2 separate regions of the Homo sapiens genome follow, and region 2 is linked to region 1. Evidence: fine-mapped expression QTL. A gene starts in region 1. The other region holds a variant in brackets. All regions are shown on one strand. Distances are between the middles of the regions. Region 1 holds the start of KCNJ16 (potassium inwardly rectifying channel subfamily J member 16). Region 2 holds the start of LOC124904052 (a long non-coding RNA gene).

What was found.
Region 2: its variant is fine-mapped to the expression of KCNJ16 in pancreas (GTEx, PIP above 0.99). The same link has a PIP of 0.9 or more in thyroid.

What each region holds. Positions count from the first base shown.
Region 1 is chr17:70,073,744-70,076,665 of GRCh38, reverse strand. KCNJ16 (potassium inwardly rectifying channel subfamily J member 16) reads right to left here and starts at 1,441. Exons shown (of 4, transcript NM_170741.4): 1 at 1,276-1,441. It overlaps LOC105371881 (a long non-coding RNA gene), which reads left to right and starts at 1,859. Exons shown (of 3, transcript XR_934952.3): 1 at 1,859-2,922.
Region 2 is chr17:70,126,448-70,129,369 of GRCh38, reverse strand. The region is part of intron 2 of KCNJ16 (potassium inwardly rectifying channel subfamily J member 16); the gene reads right to left. LOC124904052 (a long non-coding RNA gene) reads left to right here and starts at 490. Exons shown (of 3, transcript XR_007065890.1): 1 at 490-727; 2 at 1,213-1,301. RefSeq lists an enhancer at 1-1,157. The variant G/T (reference allele first, on the strand shown) is at 1,346.

The sequences.
Region 1 (2,922 bases):
ATGCTGAAATTCTTGTTGAGAAAAATGCATTAAAATAGAATATTGAATTCCTCTCCCAAAGCAGTCTTTTCTTGCAGTTTCAAAGGTTGTCAGTCTTGTTGTATATGAGACTAATAATCTTAGATTTATCACAATTATCGTGTTCTAAAAATAAACAAGCAGGATTACATCTCTAAGTTACTCAGGCTCTCTTTCTCTTTCTCTCTCTTTTGATTTGAATTGAACTCTGGACCTTGTTCACTTTTAAATTCTTTTTGGCTGAATTTCAGGAATTCCTTAAATGTATTCTGCAAAACAGCTGTGGTTTGGGTACTTCATGTTCCTTTATTGGTTAAAATCTGACATAAAGAGTGGCTAGTCTACATTTCCCATACTAAAGTAACAAAGGTGCATTCATACATTTTTTTCTTCTTCAGGATCTGGCTCTTACTAGCCATAAGAGTAATATTTAGCAGAAATACTCCAATACTCTTTTTCTAAAGACCATTCAGTCCATGTAATACACATGATCAAAATTCATCTGGCTTATAGAAATGTTATTGTTTACTACCTAAATATACCAACAAGGAAAACTGTTCAATTATATATGTCAGAGAATTCGTGGCATCCAGAGAGCAAAGTTTTACAAGCTCACACTTTTCTGACTAAATACTCAAAACAAAATTTTAAGATTTTTAAATGATAAGAAAAAAAAAAAAGCTTTAGAGGGATTAAGGTGAAAACAAAAGGAGAAAATTCTTCACTTTCAATTTATGTTAAAATAAATCTAGAAAAAATAGATCTCTTATTTCCTTTCAATGATTATAGACAACTATAAAAAAAAGTTAACGTGTATTTTCTCTGAGCTTTTTAAGAGGGGGGTATAAAATACATATTTTTCAATATTTGCAATTATATGTTCATAAGTGCATACAGGATGCAAAAATCTGGTTTTGAAAGACATTGCAGAATACTCCATGTGGTATGAATATAATAAAGCCACTTTTAGACATTTACAAATATAATAGCAGGCAAGGGCTGTTTAACAGACTCTGTAAACACCAATGTGAGACTACTTTTAACCAAAGCTTCAAAATAACTTAAGGAATATGACACACTGTTTGATTCCTACTTAAAGCACTTGGATAAAAAATTAAATTATCTTAATTGCATTTAATTGATCATTAATATTTACGTTTGCTGGAAACAGAGTGTTGCTGCTCCCCAAACACAGATGCCAGCAAGAGCAAAACATAGGCTGAATGACATTGTATCCATAGCAATAATAGCACTTACCTTTATTCACTCTCCCCACAGAGAATCTATGAGCTAGGTGCTTTCAGCTGGGCAATGGTAGAGAATGCTCTTTAGTTAATAATAAAGGAAAGAAAAGCTCCAGACACCAAGAACCTGGGTTAACCATTGACACCGGTTTGTTCCTACAGTTCCTCCCTGGGAATCTACATAGGTAGCCCCTGGCGTCTTATCAAGCAAGCCATAGCCAGTCAGCTGTGGCAGTGATTACGTCACCACCTCTGTACCTCTGGAGGAGGTACAGTGTGAAGGTCACCCAAGTATATCCTGACTAAGTTTTTACTTGATCAGGGATACAAAGGAGGAAGATTTGCTGGGCCAGAACTATGCTCAACAATGCCTGTAAGTGACTCAAATATTTACAGACAGGATTGTTGAGAGACGACCTATGGAAATGCTCCTGCTAGTTTTCAGACTCTGTTGGAATAGTACAAATAAATCCCTTTCATCAGAACTCTTTGTCTACATCTTAACAGCTGAGGATTGGGATTGCATGCTGACGAAAAGCGAGACAGGATAATGACAGGTAGCTAAGCATCCATTCAGTCTTTTATTTACCAAACCTTTAATGATTATTTTTCCTGTGCTGCCTAGTTCCAAAGAACATGAGTTCACAGTTGATTAGCCCTCTGACTAATCAACATGGATGGCAGAAATTGGGGTTGGAAAGTCTTCCTTTCCTCAACCCCAGGAATCAGAGCTCGAGCCTGAGATGGTGAATACAATGCAGGCTGTGGTATAGGTTTTGCCTGGCATTGAGTCCTAATGGGTTAAATAAAATGGTGAGGTGATCCCGTGGTCAGTGCTCTCCAGGAGGTAGAAAAGTGAGTGATCAGGGAAGAGGTAGACTTATAATGCTAGAATCAAGAGAAAGATCCAGAAAATGTGAAAAGCAGCCATGGGGAACTAAACAAATAGCAACCCTAGGCTCTTCAGAACCTGGGGGAGTTGTGTCCAGGAATGCTCAATAGAAGTGTTATGCTAGCAAGGAATTAGTTTTTCCTTTGCTTCACAGAGCGGTGGCAGCCAGGGGATCTAGGGAACCACATCAGGCTTGGTTAACACTGCAAATTTAAGAGGCCTTTTCTAGGTTCTGACAATCGTTGCTGTTTGACGGTTGTTAGAGTTTTGTTTCCATTTTTAAAAGCATGAACACTTGAGGAAGTGGACTTCTATGTTGGCACCGCCACTTACTAGCTGTGTGACACTGAGAAACTGCTTAACCTTTCTGCAACTCCATTTTCTCAACTGTCAAATGGGGATGATAATAGCAACAACGACAACACCTACCACAGATAGATAATTCGTGTTCCAAACTCATAGCTGTCACTAAGGTATACATATTCTGATAGGAAGACCTATTTTGCAATCTGTTACACAATATCTGCAGAAGAGTTTGAACTCTCCAAGGGACCTATCTTTTCATTCATCCATAAATCTCAGGTAAGCAGTGAATGCAGAGGTTGCCTTTTCTGTTAAAAAAAAAAATTGAAGACTAAACAAATGCCTACATTTCCATAACAATTGCAGCAACTCTCATTGTGGTTTATCCATGATGTTGTTCAATATTATCACTTAATGCTGCTCAATTACTGCCTTGTTTGAAAGCAGAGCACACTTTGTTAGAGT
Region 2 (2,922 bases), 53 kb before region 1:
TTTTCCCAACTGTTTACCATTAAATAATCGAGGCTAGCACTTGTTGATTGACTGGAATTTTATATTTAGCATTTGTGTTTCTTAGGATTAAAACTCAGCCTTAAAAGTGCTTCGATGCTTTCGTAATTTTCTTGTCGCCATTAATTCCGCCATGAGAAAGCATTTGCAATGTTCCTACTTTTGTAATTTTTTACATGTTGCTCCGTAGAAACTGATGGTGGCTATTGAAAGACTTTCCACTGGGCCTGGAAGCTGCGGGGTGGAGGGTGAATAACTCCTCCCTTCTCAGGCCCAGTCCCAAGGCTCAAGACCACTTGAGTCAGCAGCCTGCGTCAGCAAGATAGCAGAAGCAGGAAGAGGGCTGCCCGGAAGACACGTACCCGCTGAAGACGGAAAGAGAGGCCGTCCGCGTACTGCGTAGCAGTTACATCAGACTGAGACACTTCCTGTTTACAGGAGACTTTATAAACCCCTGCCGCATACTCATTTGGTGCTGACGCCATTGTAGACCTCAGCCCGTCTGTACCCAGGCGCTCATTAGAACAGCGTGTTGCTCCACACCGCCTTGTGGTGTTTGTTACCGCGCTCTTGGGGTTCGAACCGATACAGCAGGCTTGCAGCTATTTCATTGGTTTAAACTTTTATTTTTTTATTGCAAATGAAAATTACTATCAACTATCATTACAAAGCTGTAGAATATGAAGTTCGAAGGAAAACGCTGAATCAGGTAAGGTCTATTCTGACATATAATAATGACAAAGGTAGTAAAAGCACAGCCGTTTCTTGGCTTAGAAATGACTTAGAGTTCTTTTATAGATGAGGCTAGAGAAGAGAGGCAATGCACTCAGGTTGGTGAAGCGTTTCCATCAACGTTTATTAAATACCCACAGACACTGAGGAAAGCAGCGAGAGACTCCCTGATTTACTTCATCCCACGAGGAGGTCTGAGAGAGGGGAAGTTAGAAGGGTCAGTAACCCCAACCCTGATAACCACTTTTCTCGTATCTTACTCATTGTCTTAAGCTCAGATACAGAAACATTTCTTAATCTACTGTGACCAGTAGGATCTACTTTTAGGCCTCAGCTTTCTAAATCTTTGTATTTAAGGAGAAACTTTTAATAATTTAGTACATTTCAAATAAGCTATAAACACAGCAAGGAACATTCTCAACATAACAAATGCACATCCTGCTTATTTGTCCCCGTTTCCAGTATACAAAAGCGTCTCAATCAGACTCATCCATTTTGAAGCAATTCCTCTGCCATTTTGCCACCTCCTCTCAAATTCAGCGACTTACCAGGTAAACTCCTCTTGTAGATTGCTCTTCAAAGGTAAGCTCATGCC[G/T]AGGGTACAACACAGTGGTTAAGACACTGGTGATAAAACTGGATCTTTCCTCTAGCATCTACTTAACATGATATGTTAATATGAAGTGTGTGCTTTGTATACTTTGAGATGCACCACAAAAAAGGTCTAAAATTTCTTCAGAAAACACAATTCTGAATGTCTGTGGTGTTTGAGGTAATGAGTGCCTTCTTTACCATGTAAAGGACCTGAGGTAGTTAACACATGAAGTCATCATTATTCAAGTTGCTTTCCTGACAACTATAAGATGAGATAAGTTTTGGTGGAAATTTGAGAGCTGATGGGGTGGAGAGTAGAAGAGATGGCCTAATTCTGTATGCAGGTCATTGCCTTTGAAGACAGGCTTAGGTGGAGCTCTGAGGGAGGAGGAGGAGGAGACGGGAGGATGGGACCCAGGGTAGATGAAGAGTAGGCCGGTAGAGGAAGGTGCAGTTGGTTGGTACATATGGGTGGGCTTTGGGTGCTGAGGAGCAGAGAGAGAGAGGTATTAAGAGTTAGGACAATGCCAGGCCAAATTAGTCTATGTGGCTATTTTGCTCAAAAACCTGTTTTACAACTTCTTGCCCTTGCCGTAGAATTATGCAGGAGCCTGAGGCCTGGAATCCTCCTAAGACATTCAGACCCGCTTAGGTGGAGCTCTTCATTCGGCCACTGAACTCTTGCTTTACCCAGAACCTACTAGATAACTGTCCACGCTTCTCCAAATACTCCCTGACTCTCTAACTTCAGTTTCTCCTTTGGTGACAAGTCAATGGCATTCTCAGCTTCCCTTCTCATCCCCAGAGCAGGGTGTCCTACACCTTTTCTTCCCTTTCTGATCTCTTCTCCCTCTCAGCTCTAACCCCTAACCCTAATCCTCCATTTTGGTGAATGTGGATTTTACCCCTCTCCTGATATAACTTTACAATTTATCCTCCTGAATCAATTTAAGAAAACCTTGTGCCAGTTTACTATAGAAAGGGGTTATAATATGTTATGAGCAAACAACTAAATGAAAGCTGGAGCTGGGAAGAAATCCAGTGTATCAGCATCACTAGTAACGTTATCTGGAGATCCTGTTTCTAGCCCAGTTTTTCCTTAAGTAGTATCTACATCTGATTATAAATCCTACCTCTCCCCAAATGCTGTTTTATAAAGAAGTAGAAGAAATGTAGAATCTGGGATTACGTTTCTCCATGGTTCTGGATGTCAGGATTGCACCAAAACAATATAAATTATAATTTTAAGTTACCGAGTTTAGAAATCAAATTCCCTTAATATTAGGTTGGTGCAAAACTTAAAATCACAATGATTTTGCACCAATCTAATAAATAGTCTAAAATAAAATGGTTTTCGGTATTGCAGAGAGGGCCCGAATCAGGAGGCGGACCCCAGTTCCAGGTCTGCCCTCAACTTCCTGGGCATCTTGTGGAAATAACTTTTCTCTGAGCCTCATGGTACTAATTCATGAAATAAGGTTATGATACCTATGTCACCAAAGTACTGTGAAGTTTGAATGAGATAATGAATGGGAAGCCACCTTTTAATGTGCCAGGCACACAAGAGTCATTCAATAATTA